Linked DNA regions of Homo sapiens. The protein of the gene in region 1 interacts with the protein of each later gene in a pairwise test. Each region holds a gene or a part of one and is shown in the gene's direction. Other genes may lie near its edges. The genes, in order: MTUS2, EHHADH, MAGEA8 and KIFC3.

What was found.
Region 2: the proteins of MTUS2 (region 1) and EHHADH interact in binary tests that used the Homo sapiens proteins (3 or more experiments, as listed by UniProt).
Region 3: the proteins of MTUS2 (region 1) and MAGEA8 interact in binary tests that used the Homo sapiens proteins (3 or more experiments, as listed by UniProt).
Region 4: the proteins of MTUS2 (region 1) and KIFC3 interact in binary tests that used the Homo sapiens proteins (3 or more experiments, as listed by UniProt).

The regions. Positions count from the first base shown.
Region 1 is NC_000013.11:29,019,327-29,026,357, forward strand, and holds part of MTUS2 (microtubule-associated tumor suppressor candidate 2), read left to right. Parts: intron 1-5,130; 5' UTR 5,131-5,342; coding exon of another isoform or gene 5,343-5,372; coding exon 5,373-7,031. UniProt on the Homo sapiens protein: Binds microtubules. Together with MAPRE1 may target the microtubule depolymerase KIF2C to the plus-end of microtubules. May regulate the dynamics of microtubules at their growing distal tip.
Region 2 is NC_000003.12:185,190,094-185,195,050, reverse strand, and holds the end of EHHADH (peroxisomal bifunctional enzyme), read left to right. Parts: intron 1-1,563; coding exon 1,564-2,825; 3' UTR 2,826-4,427; downstream 4,428-4,957. UniProt on the Homo sapiens protein: Peroxisomal trifunctional enzyme possessing 2-enoyl-CoA hydratase, 3-hydroxyacyl-CoA dehydrogenase, and delta 3, delta 2-enoyl-CoA isomerase activities. Catalyzes two of the four reactions of the long chain fatty acids peroxisomal beta-oxidation pathway.
Region 3 is NC_000023.11:149,876,532-149,884,211, forward strand, and holds the start of MAGEA8 (melanoma-associated antigen 8), read left to right. Parts: upstream 1-4,651; 5' UTR 4,652-4,754; intron 4,755-5,836; exon of another isoform or gene 5,837-5,967; intron 5,968-6,539; exon of another isoform or gene 6,540-6,818; intron 6,819-7,290; exon of another isoform or gene 7,291-7,541; 5' UTR 7,542-7,603; intron 7,604-7,678; 5' UTR 7,679-7,680. UniProt on the Homo sapiens protein: Not known, though may play a role in embryonal development and tumor transformation or aspects of tumor progression.
Region 4 is NC_000016.10:57,792,492-57,799,522, reverse strand, and holds part of KIFC3 (kinesin-like protein KIFC3), read left to right. Parts: intron 1-1,240; coding exon of another isoform or gene 1,241-1,279; coding exon 1,280-1,451; exon of another isoform or gene 1,452-1,818; intron 1,819-4,381; coding exon 4,382-4,524; intron 4,525-7,031. UniProt on the Homo sapiens protein: Minus-end microtubule-dependent motor protein. Involved in apically targeted transport. Required for zonula adherens maintenance.

The DNA.
Region 1 (7,031 bases):
GCTGTGTTCTGCTAACATTGGTGTCGATGAATGACACCAGTGAGTGATTTATCAGTGGATTATCAATGAATGATAATGTAGAAGGAACTCTTAGCTTTTCCACGATAGTATGGGAACAAGAATGGATTGCAGATATTTTCGATGAAAAATTAAGGATGGGCTCCACAAGTTTTAAAAGGATAGAACGATGCATTGAGACCAGCAAGGTGATGTTTGAGAAGTATATTTTTATGATCCCACCCATGGGTGCTAAAACCAGTTACAAATGTCTCGGATTGGGTCAGTGGAGTTTAGGACAACTTATATGGTACTTTGGTGTTTTAATTAATGATGTGGAACTAGAGGGTGATTTATATGTCCATGAGGAGGTCATTCTTAGAATGCGTGGTTAGAAGTAGAAGAGAATGGAAGGCTTGCTTTCTTATGACTCTAGATGGTGCAGTTAGAATTGAAGTATTGTGCATAGCTCTGGTCACCTTGTTTAGGAGGGACTTCAGGTTCCCTGGTGCTACACGGTGTACTTAGAGGAAAGCTGTTTGGATGGTGGGAGTTTTCAAAAGCTAATCCCACAGTTGGGAGAATCTGAGTTCTTTGACAAGGAGTAGAATAGGTTTTGGGAGGAAGGGAGCATATAGCTCTTTGTAAATACCTGAAAGGTCATCTGGTGGAAGAATTGCATCATTCTGCTGTAGAGAGGCAGAGCTTGCCAACAGAGACCCTGCCCAGATGTGTGGTGAGTTTTCTGGCCCTAGAACCAGGGGAAGCCACTTAGAAGACTCTTAAGCATCAGGTAGGTTATAAGCCTAGATCTTTACATTCCTTTCAAACTAGTACTGAACTAATTGATTTTTTTCAAGATAAAATATCAATTACTTCTAAGGCCATTATTGTTAACTTTTTGTAATAATAGATCTGAGGCATATGAAAGTTACATGTCTCACTCTGGGAAAATGCACCTCAACTAGGGGTTTGTACCATTGGTTGACCTATTTGCATATTTTATTTAATCACACACAGTCTTGTATTATGTACAAGTTTGAACTTCTGTGATCATGTTATATATTCTGTGAAAACGTTTATCTTAGTAGAAGGCCTTGGATTGAAATTTAGATCCGGACAGAAATTCGTGTTTGTGTTTACTTTGCCGCTGTCTTATGGCAGGATGAGGGAGCTGGAGTGAGGGAGACGCGTGAGGCCACATAAGGAGGAGGGAAGCTGACAGGAAACATGACTTCCTGTATATAATTTTGCCTGATAAAATTGAAGAAAGTTTTTAAATTTGCTTTTCCTGTCTTATGTGAACTTCCACGTGTTGGTTTCTGGTTTTGTTTTTCTATTCTTGTTCTTACAATAGTTTGTTTTCCTTTTGTTCTTCCTGTGTGGTGTATGATTCCATTCATGGGCAGCTTTTCTTCTTTACAGCTTCTGCTTTCTAAATGTGTCCCAGCTCTGCCACTCATGAGCTGTGTGACCTTGGGAATGTTACCTTCTCTGTGCTTTCATTTCCTTACCAGGACGTGGGAAAAAAAAAAAAGCAAGGGGATGTGAAGACCTGTCTCTGGAGGCCTGCTATAAATATTATTAAGTGTCCTAACTTAAATTAAAATTGAATATTAAAGACTTGTAATTGTGTAATTTTAATTTAAAATTAAATTTTAGGCCAGGTGCTGTGACTCATGCCTGTAATACTGGCACTTTGGGAGGCCAAGATAGGAGGATCACTTGAGGCCAGGAGTTTGAGACTAGTCTGGTCAATGTATCGAGACCCTATCTCTACAAAAAATTAAAAAATTAGCCAGATGTGGTGGTGTGCACCTGGAGTGCCAGCTGCTTGGGAGGCTGACCCAGGAGGATCTCTTGAGCCCAGGAGCTCATGGTTGTGGTGAGCTATGAACGTGCTACTGCACTCCAGCCTCGGCAACAGAATGAGATACTGTCTCAATTTTTTAAACAAATTTGTATAATGGCTGAGAAAATACTGGGCCCCTAGGAGGTTCCACCTTTCTTTCTGTCCCCTTACCAGTGAGTACCAGTTGTTTACTGACAAAGATAAAGAACATTTATGATGTAGTTCCTTAAAAATTAAAATACAACTCTTTCTAGCATGACATTGGTTTTATATTTCTTTGTCACTTTCTTGCAATCATGTTACATGTTGTGGACTTTGGTACTTTGTTTTTGTTTGTCTCTGCTGAGCAAAGTTTCTTTCTTTCTCCCAGCTTCAACAATTCAAACCGAAGAGGGCTCTTGGCTGCATATTTATACTTCTGCCCACAGAAAATTAGAGGCAGTTCCCTTCTGTGGATGGCCTATATTTATGAACTTTCTTGCCCTTCTTGACTTTGCAAGATACCCGTTTCTCATCCCAGAGAGCACAGCATTCTTTTAAACTGTGATCTTATTGATTTGCCTACATGCTTTTTGTATTTGTGCTTAGAGAACATGTGTATCTTCAAGGGAAACGCTTTTAAAATTGAATAAACAAAGACACAAGGGTTTGTTGAGAATCCCCTCTGTGTCAGGAAATGAAGACTGTGATCAGGGTATGAGCAACTTGGTTGAGGGCTATATTGGGGTCAGGCTGCACCAGGGGGTGCTACTGGCTTAGTGGAGATAAGGCTGGTAGAAGATGGAGAAGGAGAAAAAGCATGAGAGCGGGGAGGATGAGGACAGTGAGGGAGTCGTGGAAAGAACAGAAGAGCAGTGTGGTACGGAAATGCAAGCGCACATGCACATGTATGACTCTGTATTTTCCCATGATCATGCAAACATGGGGAAAGAAATGGAAAGATCTAGATGTTAATGTGTCTTGGGGTATGGGCTAGAAGAGGCAAATTTTAAAAAATGGAACAAAAACCAGCTTATAGGAAATGATCTTATGTATGTAAAAAAGTTTACATGCTTATGTATAGACGCAAAAGAAAAGAGATCTCTAAGTTGGAAACACAGAGGGCTTCAGTGAGGAGGAGCATGAGGATGGCTGCAAGGTGTCCTTGGGTTGGGTGATGGGCTGTCACGTGTTATATTATTTTGCTTTGTAACATATACATTTTATTAAATAGAGATAGGGTTTTGCTGTGTTGCCAAGGCTGACCTCAAGTGATCCTCCCACCTCAGGCTCCCAAAGCGTTGGGATTACAGGTGTGAGCTACTGTGTCCAGCCCTCATATTCTTTTTAATATATGAAACAACATATTAACAGGGATAAAGGGAAAACAAGTGGGTGGCCACGTTGCCATGTAACCTGTTTCAGGAGAAACATAACAGTAGCCTCACATGTGGTGTGCACGTGTGCTTGCACATTCTTGATGAATGAGGAGGAAAGTGTGGAAGGCTTCAAGTCTCCATTGGGGGAATTGGTGACGGGGCAGAACCTTGTTGCTGTTAAAATCCCCTATCCCCAGTGCCTAATAAAATGCACTCATAATAGTGGATGAAACAATGTCAACCTTGAATAGAATGGTTTAGTGGTGATCTGTGAGTCTACTTTAACAGAAAAGCATATCCTGTGTAGATTTTAAACTCTTTGGGGGCAGAAATAACGCTGATCTTCCTCATCATTCATTTGGACATTTATTCATTCATTTGTGCTGCAAATACATAATACGTGCCTAATATGTATGCCAGGTATTAGACAATATTTATTTTCAGTGTCTAGCAAATCTGAAAGTCTTTTTTTAATTCTTCAAAGTGAAAATACAGGATACTACAAATCCATCATTATAGGATGACCTAGTGAGGAACGCTTCCTGGAGGAAGTGGTAGTTATGTTGCATATTGAAGGATGCAAAGGACTTGTAAGATGAGGTTGGGGGAGGATTCCACATTCCATGCAGATGGAAGAGTATGCGCAAAGGCCCTGAGGCAGAGAGTAATGAACATGGTACTGTGAGGAATGAGGCCAATGTGGCTGCAGCCTGCAGAGCAGAGGGTGAGGTGGGGTTGAGGCCAGAAAGGTGTTCAGGGCCTGATCATGCAGGCCTCGAAGGCCAGAGTAAAGCATTTCCCCCAAGTTTTTATTTTGGAAAATTTCAAACCTATAGAAAAGTTGCAGATGTAATAGAATTATTACCTAGATTTTCAAATGGTTGACTTTTGCCAGTTTCTCTCTTTTACTCTTTCTCCTTCTCATATGCACACACACATACATACACGTTTTTCTTGGTCGAATCATTTGAGAATAAGTTAGAAAAATCATGACATACTACCTCTGAATTCTAAAGCATGTATATTTCAAGAACCAAATTAATCTCTGGCATAATTATAGCACGATTACACACCCAAGAAAATTAATTATAAAATACCTGTACCTTATATACAGTCCATATTTAAATCTCTAATTGTCCTAATAATATCCTTTGCTAACATGTTTTGAAAATCCAGGCTCCGCTGACATTTTTTGGGACCAGTTAGGCCAGTTATTTTGCAATACATACCTCAATTTAAATTTGCCAGATTATTGTCTCATGGTTAAATTCTGGTTGAACATTAACTACTGCATAGGTGATGTGTGGCCCTGAGAACTAACTAATATCAGGAGTCCGTAATGTCAGTTTCATTACTAGTGATGTTAAATTTGATCACGTGGTTAATGTGGTGTCTACCAGATCTCTCCATTGTAAAGATAAAATTTTCGTTTTGTAAGAAATGAAGTAGCCTGGGGGAAGATACTTTAAGCATCTATGAATATCTTGTTCCCCAACAATCTTTTACCCAATGTTTGTACCTTTGGCATCCCTTGTGTAAGATAATTATGAATGTAGCGATTGCAAAATAGTGATTTTTCAAATTCTATAATTTTTTTCTACATTCGTTGATATTCTTCTGTAAAGAAGAGCCCTTACTTCTCCTCCATCCTTTTAAATCAGTATCAGTATAGACTTGTGGATGTTTAAAATTTAGATTTAAGATCTCACATGCATTTATAATCCATTTCTAACATTAAACATTTTGATGTTTAATTTTTGTATTTGGCCAGGAGGAGCCCTGATCAGAAAGGTTTTTTGAGAAAACTATTGATTGAATGAAATAATAATATAGAAATGACAAATAAATCTGTGTTTACCACTTTTTTCTCCTGAGAAGTTCTATTTGTCAATCTAATGTGAATATATTTTTATTTCTCTCTAGGTCTCATGGACTGATTGGCTCTCATTCAGCAGGAACCTAACAGATAAGTCTTCCTGCTGTATATCAAGACAATGCTTGGTTTTCAAGCTGTTCTGAGAATGATTAAAGCAGTGTCGCAAGGTGACATTGTCAGGGGAGAACAAGCAGCTTGAGAATTTCCTCTTAATCTGATTGCAGCTTGAAGGCAGCCCATTTCCATTAAGTAGGACTGCATGGCAAGCAGCCCCACCAAAGGGTTGACAATGAGCGTCCCAGTGGCTCCTAAGAAATCATGTTACACTCAGTTGCGGGACAACAGAAATGCAGCAAGAAATAATAATGAAAGCATCTTAAGTCTGGGAGATACGAATGCCAATCAAATCATGTTGGAGGTCAGCTCCTCTCATGACGAGTCCAAGACATGTGACCTGGGAGATGAAATTGGAAATACAAATTCAAGTGAGCCAGAAAACCGTACCCATTTCCATAAGGAATTTCACCAACTTCAGGGCTTTGGGAAAGGCTCTCAGGCTGGCTCTGCCAGCCTGAAAGATTTTAGACTTTCTTCAACCATTCAGAGGGAACTCAATGAAGAGCACACAGTGGAGAGAGGCACAGATAGCCTGCAGACCACGCGGAGTATTCAGGGACCAAGTCTGTCGAGTTGGAGGAATGTGATGAGTGAGGCCAGTCTAGACGTTTTGGCTAAAAGGGATGCTGAAATTCCCCGGCATGTTCCCAAGGATAAACTGGCAAAGACCCTTGACAATGAGGAACTGAGGAGGCATTCTTTGGAAAGAGCAAGCAGCTCTGTAGCTGCAGTCGGGAGCCTGACTCCGCAGCATCCACAGCCTCTATCCCTCGACTCCCGGGAAGCACGGGGTCAGATACCTGGGGGTGGGGAGGGGCCACAGAAGACATTGCCAGACCACGCTGTCCCGGCAGCTTTCCCTGCAACTGACAGTACCTCAGAGGGAAAGAGTGTGCGTCATCCTAAACCATCTACCTCAGAAAGCAAGCAGAGCACTCCCTCAGAGACCCAAACAGTGGGGGCACATGTACTGCAGGTGTGCAGTGAGCACACATCACATTCCGCCCATCCAGAGCCTGCTCTGAATTTGACTTTGGCATCGAAGGAAATCCCAAGTAAACTGGAAGCACAATTAGGTCAGGGAAAGGGAGAGGCCAAGCTGGATCTGAAATATGTTCCTCCCAGGAGAGTTGAACAGGAGGGAAAGGCAGCCCAGGAAGGGTATCTGGGATGCCACAAGGAAGAGAATCTGTCAGCCTTGGAGGGAAGGGATCCATGTGGGGAAGCACACCCGGAAGCCACCGATGCACTTGGCCATCTGCTGAACAGTGACCTCCACCACCTTGGGGTGGGAAGAGGCAACTGTGAAGAGAAGAGAGGAGTCAACCCAGGGGAGCAGGATTCTCTCCACACCACCCCCAAACAGGGCTCTGCTTCCTTAGGAGGGGCTGATAATCAGCCCACTGGCAAAATTTCACCATGTGCAGGTGAGAAGTTGGGTGAAAGGACATCCAGCAGCTTTTCACCAGGTGACAGTCATGTGGCTTTTATTCCTAATAATCTGACTGACAGCAAGCCCTTGGATGTCATTGAGGAGGAAAGGCGGTTGGGCAGTGGGAATAAGGACAGTGTTATGGTTTTGGTGTTCAATCCTTCTGTTGGAGAGAACAAGACGGAGGTGCCTGAGCCCCTGGACCCTCAAAGTGGCCGCTCAGAAGCACGGGAAAGCAAAGAGGTCACCACATCTGTTGCTGAAAACAGGAACCTTCTAGAGAATGCAGATAAGATTGAAAGCACCTCAGCAAGAGCAGATTCAGTTCTCAATATTCCAGCACCCCTCCACCCAGAGACAACTGTGAACATGACCTACCAGCCTACAACACCCAGTAGC
Region 2 (4,957 bases), on another chromosome or scaffold:
GGTCCAACTTCATTCTTTTGCATGTGGATATCCAGTTGTCCCAGCATCATTTGTTGAAAAGACTATACTTTCTCTGTTGAATGTTCTTGGCACTCTTGTTAAAAATCAATTGGCCATAATTGTGTGGGTTTGCTTTTGGCTATCAGTTCTATTCTGCTAATCTATATGTCTATCCTTTTGCAATGACCACTATCTTACACTGTCTTAAATACTATAGGCTTCTTTTTTTTTTTTTTTTTTTTTTTTTTTTGAGACAGGGTCTCACTCTGTCACATAGGCTGGAGTGCAGTAGTGTGATCATAGCTCACTGCAATCCTCAAACTCCTGGGCTCAAGATATCCTCCTGCTTCAGCTTCCCAAATAGCTGTGACTATAGGCATGCACCATCATGCCTGGCTAATTTTTGTTGTTGTTGTTGTTGTTGTTGTTGTTGTTGTTGTTACAGAGTTTCAATCTTGTTGCCCAGGCTGGAGTGCAATGGTGCGATCTTGGCTCACTGCAACCTCTGCCACCTGGGTTCAAGTGATTCTCCTGCCTCAGCCTCCCAAGTAGTGGGGATTACAGGCATGCACCACCACACCCAGCTGATTTTGTATTTTTAGTAGAGACGGGTTTTCTCCATGTTGGTCAGGCTGGTCTTGAAATCCTGACCTCAGGTGATCTGCCCACCTCGGCCTCCCAGAGTGCTGGGATTACAAGTGTGAGCCATTGCACCTGGCCCCCTGGCTAATTTTTAATTTTTTATAGAGTTGGAGTCTCACTGTGTTGCCTGGGCTGGTCTCAAACTCCTGGTTCCAAGTGATCCTCTCACCTTGGCCTCCCAAAGTGCTGGGATTACAGGCACGAGCCACCTCACCCAACCTTGAATAGTTTTGTCATACAATTTGAAATTGGGAAGAGTGAATCCTCCAACTTTGTTCTTTTTCAGTATTGTTTTGGCTCTTCTGGATTTCTTGCATTTCTATGTGAATTTTAGGATCAGCTTATTGATTCTGCAAAAAACCAGCTGGGATTTTTATAGGAATTGTGTTGGTTCTTCACATCAATTTGGGTAGTATTACCACCTTAACAATATTAAGTTGTCTGATACAAAAACATTTAATGTTTTTCCATTTATTTGGTCTTACTTAATTTCTATTAACAATGTTTTGTACTTTTTAGTGTACAAATCCTCCTATTCTTTGTTAAATTTCTTCCTGTGTATTATTCTTTTTGATGCTATTGTAAGTAGAATTGTTTCTTTTAATTTTATATTCAGATTGTTTATTTCTAATATATAGAAATATACTTGATTTTTGTATATCAATTGTGTACCTACAATCTCGTTGGACTCATTTATTAGTTTGTATAGCTTCTATTTGTGTGTGTGAATCTGACTAATTTTTATATCCTCTGAAACACTTAAGAGAGTGCAGAGTCTTAACTAGTACTCAATCCATTTGTGTTTCTTGACTCAATCTCTTTAAATGCCACATTGTCACATAAGCCTTCCATCCAGTGAATAATTTATCAGTTCCCAATACCACTGAATCATTCTTTTTCTCCTTTGATTTTTATCTGCAGGCTTGGGAACAATGGGCCGAGGCATTGTCATTTCTTTTGCAAGGGCCAGGATTCCTGTGATTGCTGTAGACTCGGACAAAAACCAGCTAGCAACTGCAAACAAGATGATAACCTCTGTCTTGGAAAAAGAAGCCTCCAAAATGCAACAGAGCGGCCACCCTTGGTCAGGACCAAAACCCAGGTTAACTTCATCTGTGAAGGAGCTTGGTGGTGTAGATTTAGTCATTGAAGCAGTATTTGAGGAAATGAGCCTGAAGAAGCAGGTCTTTGCTGAACTCTCAGCTGTGTGCAAACCAGAAGCATTTTTGTGCACTAATACTTCAGCCCTGGATGTTGATGAGATTGCTTCTTCCACTGATCGTCCTCACTTGGTCATTGGCACCCACTTCTTTTCGCCAGCTCATGTCATGAAGTTGTTAGAGGTTATTCCCAGCCAATACTCTTCCCCCACTACCATTGCCACTGTTATGAACTTATCAAAAAAGATTAAAAAGATTGGAGTCGTTGTAGGCAACTGTTTTGGATTTGTGGGGAATCGAATGTTGAATCCTTACTACAATCAGGCATATTTCTTGTTAGAAGAAGGCAGCAAACCAGAGGAGGTAGATCAGGTGCTGGAAGAGTTTGGTTTTAAAATGGGACCTTTTAGAGTGTCTGATCTTGCTGGGTTGGATGTGGGCTGGAAATCTAGAAAGGGGCAAGGTCTTACTGGACCTACATTGCTTCCAGGAACTCCTGCCCGAAAAAGGGGTAATAGGAGGTACTGCCCAATTCCTGATGTGCTCTGTGAATTAGGACGATTTGGCCAGAAGACAGGTAAGGGTTGGTATCAATATGACAAGCCATTGGGTAGGATTCACAAACCTGATCCCTGGCTTTCCAAATTCCTATCACGGTATAGAAAAACCCATCACATTGAACCACGTACCATTAGCCAGGATGAGATCCTTGAACGCTGCTTATATTCACTTATCAATGAAGCATTCCGTATCTTGGGAGAAGGGATAGCTGCTAGCCCAGAGCACATTGATGTTGTCTATTTACATGGATATGGATGGCCAAGGCACAAGGGCGGGCCCATGTTCTATGCTTCCACAGTTGGGTTGCCCACAGTTCTAGAGAAATTGCAGAAATATTACAGGCAGAACCCTGATATTCCCCAACTGGAGCCAAGTGACTATCTAAAAAAACTGGCTTCTCAGGGAAACCCTCCCCTGAAAGAATGGCAAAGCTTGGCAGGCTCCCCTAGCAGTAAATTGTGATTCAGTCTTCCAGATTATGCCTCACATGCTAGCATCAGGTAATGCTGACTGAATTTCAGTGAAATTAAATCAAAAATCCAAAGTAAGATTGTTCTGAAATACAAAGCAAAATAAATAATCATTAGAATCTTCTGTGTAACGACTCTAATGGTCAAATCTTTAGGAATGTGCTTCCTATGCCTCTGAATCTGTCCTTATCAGATAAATTCAATGCATGAACTTGTGTGAATATAATACCATAATAGCTAATGAAAGAGGCTCAGGCATAAGTTGAGATTCTCAAATGCTTTTATCATTGGATAAATGTGTCATCAATTAATAAATGATAAATGCAGCTAAGTCATACATTCATTTTGACTCCTTTCAATGTCACACACATAGTATTGATCAGAAATCTTATGAATCATACATACACTCAACAAACATTAAAGTTGTAGGAAAAAGACAGTTGGAAATTGGTAAGGGAACTGAGTACTTCAAACCAGCACAGGGAACTTAGGTTAGTGTGGCAAGCCTTTCCTCTTCTGGTCTTTCCTCTTCTGTTTATGGAGAAATAATAGAAAGTAGTAAGTCGTTAACTTAGTGTAAGAAGGGTCTTAGAGAACATCTAACCTTCTAGGATTTCCCAATTCTGTGATAGAGTAATGACACCAGTTTTCCTGTCATGACAAGCCTCTGTGATGTTACATATGGAAATGGTTGAATCTTGAAAAATCTAAAATTGTTGCAAAACATATTTTGTATGATTTTGTTGTAAGAGTTCTTCTCTTTTTACTTTTTGCCTTGTGTAGTTAAAAATTAAGGGGCTGGTCAATACAAAAACTTGTACACAAATATTTATAGCAGAATTATTCATAATGGCCAAAAGCTGAATACAACCCAAATGTCTATGAACTAATGAATAGATAAACCAAATCTGGTATATCCATACAATGGACTATATTATTCAGCCATAAAAAGAAATAAAGGGCCAGGCACAGTGGCTCACACCTGTAATCCCAGCACTTTGGGAGGCTGAGGCAGGAGGATTGTTTGAGGCCAGAAATTTGAGACCAGCCTGGGCAACATAGCAAAACCCTGTCTCTACAAAAAATACTTTCCGTACATTAGTGGTTGCCTAAGGCTAGAATTGGGGGTGATGAATGGGGAGTACAGGATTCATCTAATGGGTACAGGATTTCTTTATGGTTCATGAAAATGGTCTAAACTTATTGTGGTAATGGTCACATAACAATATATTAAAAACCATTGAGTTGTATATTTTAAGTGGGTGAATTATATGGTATGTGAATTATATCTCAATAAAGTTGTTAGTAAATAAATGGGGCTGAAGATGTTATCCTTCATTGTGGTGTAAATGAACTTTCACAATATTTTCACCTGTGAACCCAAATAAAATGATTAAAGTTCTGATGGAAAAATCTTGAATGGAGTATAAGTTTTCCGTTGTTAAAAAGCAAACAAAAAACCAACAAAAAATCCAAGTGTGCCTTGAATTGTACAGAGCACAATTATTATGTTTGAAATGTGTACTACTTAATTTTATATAATTTGGTTTGTGAAATTAAAGACATCAATAAAAATGATTCCTGAAAGTAGTAATTTTGTCTCCAAAGTGACTTGCTTTCAAATCAGTGTTAAAAAAAACCCACTAACTTTTTCTTCAAACCTGGAATTAATTTTGAGTTCTTACAACTTATTTTCACCCTACAGTGGCCTCTAGATTAAGGGGGTTTTTTTTGTTTTTTTGTTTTTGTTTTTGTTTTTTTCTGACTGGAGTCTTGCTCTGTCGCCCAGGCTGGAGTGCAGTGGCGCTATCTCAGCACGCTGAAAGCTCTGCCTCCCAGGTTCACACCATTCTCCTGCCTCAGCCTCCTGAGTAGCTGGGACTACAGGTGCCCGCCACCACGCCTGCCTAATTTTTTGTATGTTTCAGTAGAGACAGGGTTTCACCATGTTAGCCAGGATGATCTCAATCTCCTGACGTCATGATCCACCTGCCTCGGCCTCCCAAAGTGCTGGGATTACAGGCGTGAGCCACCACGCTTGGCCTAGATTGAGATTTTGAAACTAGAGGGTCTATGAATAGGTTTTATGAGTCAATAACCCCTGAAATGTTATGATAAAGTTTG
Region 3 (7,680 bases), on another chromosome or scaffold:
AACTGTGGTCCAACAACAACAGAACACTATTCATCAACCAAAATATTTACTTATCTAGGCACACAAAAACATGAATAAATCTTAAATGCTTAATTCTAAGTAAAAGAAGCCAGTCCGAAAAGACTACATAGTATATGATGCAATTTATTTGACGTTCTGGAAAGACAAGACTATAACGACAGTAAAAATACCTGTTGTGGCCAGGGATCAGGGGTGGGGAAAAGGTATGACTAGGATAAGCAGAAGGAATTTATTAGACAGGTGAAACTATTCTCTAGGCTACTGTAATGATTGATTTTGTCATGTCATGGTTGATGACATGCTGTCAAAAAATGGAATATATTATGCATTTGTCAAAAAGCATAAAACCTTAAAGCACAAAGAGTAAACCTCAATGTATGCAAAATTGAAAAAATTAGGAGGTCGAGGAATGCCAAGGTGGAGTATAGAATATGACAAAACAATATAACTGTGTTACAAATCTATGAAACAACCTCTAATGAGTATCTGGGGATATGGTGCTGTCCTAAGTACCTGTGGAAGTTAGTCTCTGGGACCGAAGTTAAAAGAAACTGTACTGAAGCAGTATTGTCTGGCTTCTAAAGCTATTTCTCACAGGGACTGGGTTTAAGAATTCTGATTATAGATATGTGTATATACACAGGTTAATATACCAAAATATATATCTTTACTCTGAGAATTGAGGTGGCTAGGAATAACAAATCCTCAGGAACAATGAGCATGCCAAGCACCCACCTCTCACATTCCAATACTCTTCTCCCATAAAAGGAAGCAGAAACCATGGAAAATTGACTCTTCTATGACTGGAACAGGAAATATAAAAATGAGCCTGCATCATCTTGTCATACCATAAAGTAAGACAGAGCTACAAACAAATGTAATGGCTCAGTTACGTGAAGGGGACATCAGAGCCAACTGAAAGAGCTTCCAATGGACAAAGATGGAACAATCTGAGCAGCAAAATAAAAGTGGTGTTGAATTATAACCCCAAACATATAATAAATTACCATGAGTTCAGCCGAGACAAATTGAAGGTTAAATAAATACAAATAATGGGGGAGAATAAACAAATCTCCCATTGAGAAGAATCCCAAATCATTCATGTCAATACTACCCCTTCCCAAGAAGGTGGACCATACTTCCCTACTACCCAATGGCTGCCCTTAGTGACTTTCTTTTATAAAGCACAATACAGAAAGGGGGGAATGTAATAACCTTGCAGAGGGAAATCCTGACAACACTACCTCAGCCAGTTCATCAGTCAACATCAACAGCGATGAGTCATGTTGCTAAAATATCGTGTAATGAGAATGGCATTTCGCCTCTCTGGTCTCCTACCCCAAAGCCATTACTCAAGTCTATATATGAAAAAACTCAGACAAATACCAAATGAGGGTAATTCCACAAATAGCCTGATCGATACTCCCCAAAACTGTTAAAGTCATCAAAAACAAGAATAGTCTGAGAAACTATCACAGCTTAGACTAAAGTAGCATGGTATCCTAGATGGGATCCTCAAACAATGACAGGAATGTGCAGGTGAATATTGATTTATGAATTATGAAGAATGTATCATATTATTGCATGATGTTAATAATAGGAGAAACTGGACATGATGTATAGGAAAACCCTCTTAACTGTCTTCGCAACTTTTCTGTAAATTTAAAATTACTCTAAAATGTTTACTAAAAAAAAAAAAACACTTAAAGGAATGGGGAAAAAAGCCAAAAATGGGGAGAAAATACTTGTAAACCCCGTGTCGGATAAAGGATTCATATACTGAATGAATAAACACCTTATAACATGCAACCACATAAAAATGAAGAGTCCAATAAAATAGTAAATGATTTCAAGACTTCACCAATGAAGATACACAGATCACAAAAAAGCATATGAAAAGATGATTACCATAATTATTCAATAAAAATACAAATGTAAACAGCAGTAACATTCTTCTACCCACCTGTTACAATTGATACAATGCAACAACCTGAAAATACCAAATTGTACAAAAGATGTGGCATTCTCTTTCATTGCTGGTAGAGAAGAAAAAGAACACATTCACTCTAGAAGGGGCTTTGGCTATTTCTAATATAGCAAAACTTAGACTTACCATTACACACAGCAATTGTACTCCTAGGTTTTATCAAGGAAAATTGGAAACAGGTTCATACACACAAAATCACGTACACAAAAACATATATAGCAGCTTATTTGAAATTGACAATCAATACTTTTTCCAATTGGTGAATGGATAAAACCAATGGTACGTCCACAAACTGAAAATGTATTTAAAGCTCAATCCACCCTCTACCGTTCTAAGGCAGGCAGTTTTGTGGGTCAGTTCCCCCAAGTGGTCAGGGAAAACGAATCACCATATTAACTCTTCCAAATAATCCCAAAATACGGGCAATTATTCAACGAATTCTCCAAGGCTCCTTCTCCTGCATTGGGGGGGAAAAAAAGATAAAGACATCCAGCCTTTATAAAAAGAACATATGAGCCAAGTGTTCACTCATATTGCAGCAAATGTCCTAAATAGATAATTGTATATTCAACACAACAGTGGACTAATGAACAAGCAGCTCGTATGCAAGGAATAAAAATACAGAAAAAGCCTCTGAAATGAATTTTATCATATTTTCAAATTAACATTTTTAGCAAATGAAGATTAAAAGGCACTTTAATTTTCTAAAACTGACAGGAAACATACTTGAATGTGAAATGTTAGAAGCATTCCCATTCTCGTCAGGAGCAAGTCATTGATGTATGCTTTCACTGCTACCGTTCACAGCTGCAGTGAATGCTGAAATGAAAAAGAGAGCTATGGATATCAAGATGAAAAAGAGGTATGAAGATTGAAAAGAAATAGATCATATTTTTCACAATATGACCATCAAGAAAATTCAAAGGAAGAGACACATGGAACATTCAAATGAATAAGAGACTTCAGAAGACAGCATACAAAGACCACTGCAGCGAATACAAGAGACTTGTCACAGATGAGCAACTTAGAACATAAAATGAAAAATATACCATCCCCAACAGCATTTAAATCCAAAATATAAAGAAGAAGAAGCCTAACCAAAATATGCAAGACATTTACAGAAGCAACTGTACAAGTTTGCTGACAGATTCAGAGAAAAAATTCCCAAATAAATGGAGTAGTATATGATGTTCACTGATGAGGAATAGAATACAGCAAAGGTGTAAATCTTACTTAAATTAAATAAACAGTTAATGCCTACCTGTAGCTGCCAAAGTGACAATCAAGCCCAGGCTGCTGTGCTCTACTCCCAAAATCAACTGTGTAAAAATATAGAAGGGAAAAAGAAAAATAAAACAACAATATCAGCAACAAAGTCTAAACAACAAAACATAGAAAACCCTGGGGAAAAAACTGTGTTGAACTGGTACTTGTGTTCTGGGCAGTTGGAGAGGCAGGGAGGTTGAGGAGGTCTGCAGCCACTGCAGACGACAGGGTGAGTTGCAGGAAAAGTTTTAAAGGACCACCCCACATCAATGTAGGATCCGAGTCTGCACCTCAAAACACGAAGCCAGTAGCCCAGGGGTAATATCAGGACACCAGGAAAATTGGATTGATTGAGACACCATGGCTCCAGAATTCTGCTAATAACAACTAGAAACAAAGAGTAGGTTAGGACTACCTTCCAAAATACTATTATTTTAATCAAATATATATAATGAACTAGAAATAGAATAGTATGAGTGAATCACACATTGTATGAGTAGATATTGTTTGATAAAATAAGTACGTATAGTCGACATACATATATGTATAAATATATGTAAAGATATATACACATACATTCATATAATTACACATATATAATATAAACATATACATACATATGTGTTTATGCATATAAACATAAATATAATGCACATATACAATTGGCATAGATTTAAAATTCGTTTCTTACTATACGAATGCGAATTAAATTATGAAAATCACTAAAGTGGAATAGGAATTGTTAGGTAACTTCAAAACTCAGGACTTCCACAAATTTATTGCAGCTACTCAGTTTCTTCAGTGTAAAAATAAATCATTTAGTACAAAAGTTTTGCAAAATCCTCTTCTAGCTGGGGAAGAGCCCCCGTGGGAAGGTGTGCCTCTTCTCCCAGAGGTCACTACAATCTTAGGTGCTGCAAACCCACAGGGAGAATCTGGCCTGGGACCCGCAGCCATTCTCTGCAAGGGGTGCAGCTGTGCAAATGCTCAGAGGTGACAGAAACAGAGTATCTCCTAAAAGAGCCAAGAGTCAAGAAGAGGACCCTCCTGAGTGAGGACTGAGGGTCCACCCACACCACATAGAGGGGCCACATAATTCAGCTCAGACCCTCATGTCAGCCCTGAAAGACCCCAGCAGCCTTGTCCCCCCACCACACCCTTCCCCCCACTGCCACCTCAGGGGACTCGGAATCAGAACCTTGGTCTGAGGGAAGCAGACACCATCAGCAGAGTACGGAGCTCCAGGCTCTGCCAGATCTCAAAGTGAGAACCTTGAGGGATGACTGAACCGCTCCTCCCTCATCCCCCGCCCCACTAGAATCCGGTTCCGCCCCTGTTGTCCACCCAGGTGAGCCCTGGGTGGACGGATGTGACGCCACTGACGTGGCCGCGGGGATCAGAGAGAAGCGAGGGCCTGGTTCTGAGGGGTCGGCTTGAGATCGGCTGAGGGAAGCGGGCTCAGGGTCTGTGAGGAGGCAAGGTGAGACCCTGAGGGAGGACTGAGGAGGCCCCCACCCCTCATATAGGACCCAAAATAATCTAGCGCCGCCCCTGCTGCCAGCCCTGGACCACCAGGGGGCAGACTTGTCTGGCTGGGCCACCCCTCGCCAGCCCTGCGCTTAAGCCCCAGGGGAATCTGGAGTGAGAGCTTGGTGTGACCAGAGCAGGGCTGGTTAGCAGAGGGCAGGGCCCAGGTTCTGCCAGGCATCAAGGGCAGGACCCTGAGGGAGGGCTGAGGCTCCACAGAGCACATCTCTGCCCCTACTGTCAGCCCTGGGAAGCCCTAGGCATGGCGGCCGGGCATGGCGGCCGGGCATGGCGGCCGGGCATGGCGGCCGGGCATGGCGGCCGGGCATGGCGGCCGGGCTCGCTGATTCTGACGTCCGCATCCGGGGCTGATGCAGCAAAGGGGCTTCATGAGCACGGACTCAAGAGGAGCAGAGGGAGGGCCCAGGCTATGCTGGGAGATGAGGAGGCCCGAGGGGACCCAGGACCCCAGGACAGGGGGCCCACCCTACCTGTCTGAGACTGAGGGGCCTCCACATTTGGCCTCAGGAATCCGAGGGACTGAAACTCAAGTCAGCAGGGGGGTGGTGAACAGCCCTGCCAGGAGTCAAGGAGAAGAAGAAGAGGGAGGACTCAGGGGTCCTTGGACTCCAGATCAGTGGAGATCTCAGCCTTGGGAAGTCCCAGGATCTGTGGCTGCATGTGGCGCATCCTTGCTGCATTTTCAGGGTGTCAGAAAGGAGACAGCTGTGGTCTGAGGAGTGGAGTCTCAGATCACTGGAGAGAGGTGCCCCAGAGCCCTTAAGGAGGACTCAGCAGACCTCCCATCATGGCCTAGGAAACCTGCTCCCACTCTCAGGTCTGGGCACCCAAGGCAGGACAGTGGGGAAGGGATGTGGCCCCCCCACTTTCTGGTAGGGGGCCTCAAGGAGATGGTGGCCTTGGCATGCAAGACACATCCACGGTTCAGCAGGAAGGAAAGGGCCATGCCTTGTCGTGGAGTAAATATGAATACCTGGATGACACCCAGACAGAGAAAGACCCCATGAAACCTACTACTTCTGTCAGCCGTGGGAATCCCATGCAGGGTTGTCCATGTAGTGCCTCCTTACTTCTGCCTCCTGGGTCTCAGGGAGGTAGCAACCTGGGTCTGAAGGGCGTCCTCAGCTCAGCAGAGGGAGCCACACCTGTTCAACAGAGGGACGGGGTCACAGGATCTGCAGGACCCAAGATGTGCTCACTTTGTGATGAATGGGGGTACTCCTGGCCTGGAAAGAAGGGACCCCACAAAGTCTGGCTAACTTTGGTTATTATCTCTGGGGGAACCCGATCAAGGGTGGCCCTAAGTGGAGATCTCATCTGTACTGTGGGCAGGAAGTTGGGGAAACGCAGGAAGATAAGGTCTTGGTGGTAAGGGGAGATGTCTGCTCATATCAGGGTGTTGTGGGTTGAGGAAGGGCGGGCTCCATCAGGGGAAAGATGAATAACCCCCTGAAGACCTTAGAACCCACCACTCAAGAACAAGTAGGGACAGATCCTAGTGTCACCCCTGGACACCCCACCCAGTGGTCATCAGATGTGGTGGCTCCTCATTTCTCTCTTGAGATCTCAGGGAAGTGAGGACCTTGTTCTCAGAGGGCAACTCAGGACAAAACAGGGACCCCCATGTGGGCAACAGACTCAGTGGTCCAAGAATCTACCAAGAGTCTAGGTGACAACACTGAGGGAAGATTGAGGGTACCCTCGATGGTTCTCCTAGCAGGCAAAAAACAGATGGGGGCCCAACAGAAATCTGCCCGGCCTCTTTTGTCACCCCTGAGAGCATGAGCAGGACTATCAGCTGAGGCCCCTGTGTTATACCAGACTCATTGGTCTCAGGGAGAAGAAGGCCTTGGTCTGAGGGCACTGCATTCAGGTCAGCAGAGCGGGGGTCCAAGGCCCTGCCAGGAGTCAGGGACTCAGAGGACACCACTCACCAAACACACAGGACCGAACCCCACCCTGCACCTTCTGTCAGCCATGGGAAGTGCAGGGAAAGGTGGGTGGATGGAATCCCCTCATTTGCTCTTCCAGTGTCTCCTGGAGATAGGTCCTTGGATTAAGGAAGTGGCCTCAGGTCAGCCCAGGACACATGGGCCCCAATGTATTTTGTGTAGCTATTGCTTTTTTCTCACCCTAGGACAGGACACGTGGGCCCCATTGCATTTTGTGTAGCTATTGCTTTTTTCCCAGGAGGCCTTGGGCATGTGGGGCCAGATGTGGGTCCCTTCATATCCTTGTCTTCCATATCAGGGATATAAACTCTTGATCTGAAAGTTTCTCAGGCCAGCAAAAGGGCCAGATCCAGGCCCTGCCAGGAGAAAGATGAGGGCCCTGAATGAGCACAGAAAGGACCATCCACACAAAATAGTGGGGAGCTCACAGAGTCAGGCTCACCCTCCTGACAGCACTGGGGTGCTGGGGCTGTGCTTGCAGTCTGCAGCCTGAGTTCCCCTCGATTTATCTTCTAGGAGCTCCAGGAACCAGGCTGTGAGGTCTTGGTCTGAGGCAGTATCTTCAATCACAGAGCATAAGAGGCCCAGGCAGTAGTAGCAGTCAAGCTGAGGTGGTGTTTCCCCTGTATGTATACCAGAGGCCCCTCTGGCATCAGAACAGCAGGAACCCCACAGTTCCTGGCCCTACCAGCCCTTTTGTCAGTCCTGGAGCCTTGGCCTTTGCCAGGAGGCTGCACCCTGAGATGCCCTCTCAATTTCTCCTTCAGGTTCGCAGAGAACAGGCCAGCCAGGAGGTCAGGAGGCCCCAGAGAAGCACTGAAGAAGACCTGTAAGTAGACCTTTGTTAGGGCATCCAGGGTGTAGTACCCAGCTGAGGCCTCTCACACGCTTCCTCTCTCCCCAGGC
Region 4 (7,031 bases), on another chromosome or scaffold:
GGTGCAGTGGGGCTGCAAACATGAATGTGTGTGGGCCCATAGTGGGTCAGGGGAGGTGGACACCCTTCAAATAGCTATCTTCACTTCCTGGCAGGAAGTGGCCACTGCAGTGACGGATGGGGAGAGTAGTCGACAGCCCAGGAAGCTCCACTAGGAAGTCCTTCAGTTACCCCCACCTCAATCTTAAAACCCCATGTTGCCTCTCCAAGCTGACTTCGCTTCTTCTGTAAATGACATTACTGTCTGAGTCTGGGACTGTAGCATGATCACCTTAAATGTCCTCAAGGTTGCTTTGCACACAGTAGGTGCTCAATAAAGACTTCTGCAGGGAATACCTGAGCTCTGTTCATTTGTTCAGTTCATGAGGGACCTATCCCTGACTGAAGCTTTCTATCCCTGACCAATGCTCTCTGCCCCCCTCCATTCCCCACACCACCTGGTGCCTGGCTCGCACCTGCCGCCTCCAGTAGCCTGCTCAGACTGTGAGGGTTTTTTTGAAGTGTTTATCTCCCTTCTGACTGGGAGTTTTCAGGCCTCATCTCTTCTGATCCAAAAGGACCCCTGGCAGATGCCTGGCACCCAGTAGGCATTATTAAATGAAGACTGAATGAATCTTTGTATCTCAACACCCATACGGTGCCTGCCACATGCTAGGCACAGAGCGCAGGCTAGTCGAATACATGAATGAGAACTTACTGTATATAGACTTCACTTGTCATTGGCCACAGTCAGGGCCCTTTTGAGTCCCTCCTCAGTGAAATGTTAATATTCAGAGCATTCACTGCTCTGCTGACAGGCCTTAGGCAGAGCAGCCTGAAGCCTAAGGGTTAAGCATGTGGTTAAGTGCAATTAGAAAATTAGATGTCTTGGAGGAAAAGGATTAGACTTACGGAGATGCTGCTGACTCGCGGTGCCTCCTCTGTGTGGGGCTAGGACCTGGCTTGTCCTCAGGCTCCAGGCTCAGCTGGGAAGGGCTCAGGTGTGGGGTCTCAGGCACAGCTGATATGCAACTTTCGCACTTCGGAGCCTCCGTATTCGGAAACAAATACCCCCAAAAGGCAGCAGGCCCCATTTCATCCTGCGAGCCCTAGGGTCTTTGGGGGACAGTGCAGTTGGAGCTGCTGCGCTGGGTAACCAGCGACCGGTGGGGCGTAGACCCTTCCAGATGGCTGGCTCTGCCCGAGGTGCAGTTGTGCTGGTCCACGGTCTTCAAGCTTATCTCCCCTTGTTCTCTCCGCAGGCTGCCTGGTGCCCCGAGGAGGCTGCTGAGCCCCAGGCCATGGTCCCCTCTCGCAGGACGTGGAACCTGGGAGCCACGCCCTCGCTGCGGGGCCTGTGGAGAGTGGGCCGGGCCCCGGAGCCCGAGCCGGGGATGGCTCGCCCCGCCCCAGCCCCAGCCAGCCCGGCCGCCCGCCCTTTCCCACACACCGGCCCGGGGAGGTTGAGAACTGGTGAGTCCGCATTTTTAAAATGCCTCTTTATTTCCCTTCCTTCCTCCAGATACCAGAGATGAGACTGAGGTTTCTCACCGGTTCCTAAGCCCAGTCAGAGCTGTCAGGTAATTACAGGGTAACCGACAGCCCAGAGCCAGGCGGGCGTGGAGCCGGAGCGTCAGTCTCGCCGGGCGCTCCTTCCCTGCGCCCCTGTCTGGAAAAGAGGAGACCTGGAAGCCGGGTTAAACTTTAACACGGGTCGGGCACAGAGCAGGGGGAATCAGCTGCATTCCCTCTGGCCAAGCTGGTCAGAGCTCTGCGGGCTGCCGTCCTTGGCCAAGAGCGTGTGGGCTAGCTCCGGTCTCTGCCCAGGCTGGTAAACAAGGTAGGTGAAGTGGCTGCCTGGGCACCAAGCGCCGCTGACACTTGATCCTGCCTGGGCTGGCCCCTGGACGGCGTTGGGAGTGGACCGAGGCTGCTCGGGAACGTGGCCTGGCGGGGCTTGGGGTCCATGTGCTCATTTCAGGTGCTTCTGTAGAGACCCTGACAGCAGGTGGGCAGAGGTCCCAGAGTCTTGGCCCCCACTGTACCCCCCGGGGAGCTGTCAGTGCCAGCTCGCCTTTCTGGGTCATGTCCCCCGGTGCTGCGAAAGTCAAGAAGTGAGCGGCTTCTCTGATTCAGGGCCGGGACTGGATTGGCGGGGCCGCGGAGCTGTCCATGACCCTCTCCCGAGGCGTGGGCAGGTCGCCCTGGTAGTGTGGGGGAGAGAGGGCTCTCCAGGCAAGGTGCCTTCAGGGGTCTGCTCCCTGTCCCTCGTGACCTACAGGAACAGGGTCTAGACTGCCAGCCTGTGAGAGCTAGCAGAGTCCCTCTGGGCCATCAGGTCCAAGCCCCTTGGTGCACAGAAGGGGAAACTGAGGCCCAGAGAGGGCACACAGCAAACTCCTGTTCACCCCTCTCTCCCACCACATTTGTGCTGTCAGTGGCAGCTGGACTGATGCCTTCCGAGGTCTCTCTGCTTCTATGGTTGTCTGGGGCTGGCTGCTCCCAAGCAGCACAGCCAGGCTGGGGATGACCCAGGGGCCTGGGGAAAAGCCTGGGCTTTTGGGCCAGGTAGCCCAGTTGTCTGAAAGGGGCAGAGGATGGCCTCTACCCCATAAGGTTGTCCTAAGTATTACAAATGTAATATGAATGAGTATTGCTTTTCCGGTAAAACAAAAGCATTTTCCCTTAGAAAACTTAAAACACATAGAAAAATATCAAAAAGGAAATAAAAATCACAAGTTAGTCACTGAACATTTTATGTAGTGCCTTCTAGTCGTGTGTGTCTGTGTGTGTGTGTGCATGCATATAGGTCTTTGAAATATTGTGTTATCTCAGCTTTCTAACCTGAAGGAAAAAATTGGGTATTATGAAGATTATATGACCATACAGACTTTTATCCACTTAAAAAATTTAAGACAAAGGTCAGATGAAATCCTGTGTGTGAAATGCAAGCGCCGTGCCTGCCACTGGGCCTCAGCCAGCTCAGCTGCCCCAGGCCCCTCTGAGTCCCCCGACCAACCCCCATATTGCCACCCTGAGAATTGGCTGGCAGAGGGTTGATTAGCACATGGGATTTGAATCCTGGCTCCCTGTGACCCTGGGCACATTGTTAACCCTTCCAGGCTTCCGGTTCTTTGCCTGTCAGGTGGGGAGAATGCCCCCCACCTCCCTGGGGAGTTTTGAGGAGCTGATGGCTACTGTAGTCCTATTGGCCTGTACTGTGGGCCCTTTCTGTGTGCCTGGCACTACATGGGCACCACGTGTATTTCATCCCATTTGATCCTTATCACAGGGCTGTGAAGTTGTCCCCATTTTATTGACAAGCAAACTGAGGACCAAGAAGGTGTGTAAAGGCTGGGTGCTGTGGCTCACGCCTGTAATCCTAGCACTTTGGGAGGCCAAGGCGGGCAGATCACTTGAGGTTAGGAGTTCAAGACCAGCCTGGCCAACATGGTGAAACTCTGTGTCTGCTAAAAATACAAAAATTAGTTGGGCTGGTGGTGCGCACCTGTAATCCCAGCTACTCGGGAGGCTGAGGTATAAGAATTGCTTGAACCCGGGAGGTGGAGGTTGCAGTGAGCCAAGATCGCACCACTGCACTCCAGCCTGGGCAACAGAGAGAGGCCCTGTCTCAAAAAAAAAAAAAAAAAAAAAAAAAAACAAAAAAGCCCAAAAAAACAGAATGTGTGTAAGGCCTGAAAAGCACTTGGCCCAGTGGCTGGCACTCGGGATATTGTTACGCCCCAGGGTAGTGGCTCTGCAGTGTGCCTCATGACTCGTGAGGCTGGCCCCCATCCCACCCTGTTCAGCCCTGCAGGTGGAGGTGGGTGGCTGGGGCATTGCTGCCACAGCCCGCCCTCTCTCCCATGGGTGAGGGAGGCGGTGTGTCAGAGGCACAAGGGGATGCACGTTAGCTGGTTCTGAATACGCTTGGGGAGGCAACGGAGGCTGGGCCACCTGGTTTGGATTTTGTCTTAATGAAGTCAGGGAAGAAATTGCCACCTAGAGGCAGCCGGGGTAATAAAGCCATAGCCCCTGTGCAAGTCCTCAAAGCTTCATGCAGGCTGGCTGGCAATGGCTTCCTTCCACTTCCCTGCTGAGCAGATGCCTGCCCCAAAAGCCACTGTGGGGATAGGGGAGCCTCCGGTGGGGTATTGGGCCCCTTCCAGAAGAGAATCTTTGGGCGGCTTTTGGTAAGGAAGGAGCGTAGCCACTGCCCCGAGCCAGGCCTTCCCCTCTGCAGGGCAGGCGTTTTTTGGGTGTGTGAGCCCCTCCTGGCCACATCTGGACCAGCCAGGGATGTGTGAAAGCTGAGCTCAGCTGCGGCCCTGGCCAGTGGTCCATGGCTAGCAGTCTTTGGCCAGTGGTCGGAGTGTCTCACCTATCTCTCTGTCCTGGGACAGGGCGTGGAAAAGATACCCCAGTCTGCGGTGACGAGGACTCCAGTGCCCGAAGTGCAGCTCGCCCAGCCCTAGCTCAGTGCCGAGCCCTTAGCGTGGACTGGGCTGGCCCCGGAAGCCCCCACGGGCTCTACCTGACCCTGCAGGTAAGCACTGGGGCCTTCCAGGCTGCATGTGCCTTGGCTCTCTGAGCTCCAGTGGCTGGGTTCCTGCCAGGCTTCTGGGGGTAGGAAGCACCTGGGGAGAGCCGGGGACCCACCTCGCACCTCTCTGTTGGGCCCCTCATGACCCCTCTGCCTGGGAGCCTGCTTTATTAAGTCAGACGGGAAATCTCATAGGAGCTGACAGGAGCTTTTCAGCCATGCCCTGGCTGAGGTGTTAAAATGGGAAGCATGGGGCCTTAGCTGAGATGGGCAGAGCTTGGAGAAGGTATTGGGAAAACAGGCAGGTTTGGGGTGGTTGATTATTCTGAAACATGGTTATGTGAGTATTTCCTTGTATTTCCTTGGGAATATTTCCTTGTTTGAAGTGAGAATTCAAAGCTAGATGGAGGATTCACTAAAACTTGGGGTCTTCTCCCTTGCAGTTATCACCAAGTGACTTTAAAATGACAAAGTAAGGCTAGGCGCGGTGGCTCAGGCCTGTAATCTCACCACTTTGGGAGGCTGAGATAGGAGGATCGCTTGAGCCCAGGAGTTCACGACCAGCCTGGACAATATAGTGAGACCCTATCTCTACAAAAAGAAAAATAAAAAATTAGCTGGGCATGGTGGTTCCTATAGTCCCAGCTACTCAGGAGGCTGGGGTGGGAGGATCGCTTGAGCCCAGGAGGTTGAGGCTGCAGTGATTGCACCACTGCACTCCAGCCTGCGTGACAGAGTGAGACCCTGTCTCAAAAAAAAAAAAAGAAAAGAAAAAAGATAAACTTTACATATGTATGTATATTTGGCTATAGAAATAATACATAACGATAATAGTAATAAGAGCTACTGTTTATCAAACATGGACTCTGTGCCAGGCATTAAAAGATCTCATGTTAGTCCTCATCATACTCATAACAATCTCAGGATACAGTATTTGATCTGAGCTTTATAGATGAGGATGTGGAGGCTCAGAGAGGTTAAGTTACTCGCTGCTGGTCACATATTCGACCATTCAACACAACTAGCCTTGTAACAGGGCAGAGATACAGTTATCCAGAAACTGCCTCTCTTAGTCCTCTATCTTTGAGAAATCCACTATTAAGTATTTGGTGTTTATTTGTTTATCTTTCCTATATAGAACCACTTAATTAAATTTATATGATTTTTATTTTTGAGATGGAGTCTCGTTCACTCTGTTGCCCAGGCTGGAGTGCAGTGGCGTGATCTTGGCTGTAATATCCGCCTCCCGGGTTCAAGTGATTCTCCTACCTCAGCCTCCTGAGTAGCTGGGATTACAGGTGTGCATCATCACACCTGGCTAATTTTTATATTTTTAGTAGAGATAAGGTTTCACCATTTCACCATGTTGGCCAGGCTGGTCTTGAACTCTTTTTTTGTTTTTTTTTTTTGAGACAGAGTCTCGCTCTGTCGCCCAGGCTGGAGTGCAATGGCATGATCTCAGCTCACTGCAGCCTCCGCCTCCCGGATTCCAGTGATTCTCCTGTCTCAGCCTCCCAAGTAGCTGGGATTACAGGCGTGTGCCACCGTGCCCAGCTAATGTTTGTATTTTTAGTAGAGACAGGGTTTCATCATGTTGGCCAGGCTGGTCTTGAACTCCTAACCTCGAGTGATCTGCCCGCCCCAGCCTCCCAAAGTGCTGGGATTACAGGTGTGAGCCAGTGCACCCAGCCATATTTATATGATTTTTTTTTTTTTGAGACAGAGTCTCACTCTGTTGCCCAGGTTGGAGTGCAGTGGCATGATTGCAGCCCACTGCAACCTTCACCTCCCAGGTTCAAGCGATTCTCATGCCTCAGCCTCCCGAATAGCTGGACTACAGGCATGTGCCACCACACCTGGCTAATTTTTGTATTTTTAGTAGAGATGGGGTTTCACCATGTTGGCCAGGCTGGTCTTGAACTCCTTACCTCAAGTGATCTACCCGCCTCAACCTCCCAAAGTGCTGGGATTACAGGCATGAGCCACAGTTCCCAGTGCATATTTATATGATTTTTATTATTTATTTTACATGTTATTCTGTCACTAGCTCTTTCCCTCAAGTAAGTCCTGGTAATCTCTTCATGCTCATCAACACATAGAGAACTACCCTTTTTTTTTTTTTTTTTTTTTTTTTTTGAGCAAGGTCTGGCTCTGTTGCCCAGGCTGGAATGCAGTGGTAGAATCTCACTGCAACCTCCAGCCAAGTCATCTCACCTCAGCCTCCTGAGTAGCTGGGACTACTGGCATGTGCCACCACACCTGGCTAATTTTTGTAATTTTTGTAGAGACGGAGGTTTCATCATGTTGCCCAGGCTGGTCCCGAACTTGTGGGCTCTGCCTTGGCTTCCCAAAGTGCTGGGATTACAGATGTGAGCCATTACGCCCGGCCCTACCTCTTTCTTTTACACGGCTGCGTAATAGTCTACTTCAGGGCTTACCATAAATTATTTATAACAGATCCTCTGTATTGTTTCTGATTGCAGTGAGCTCCTTAAACAAATATCTGTGCT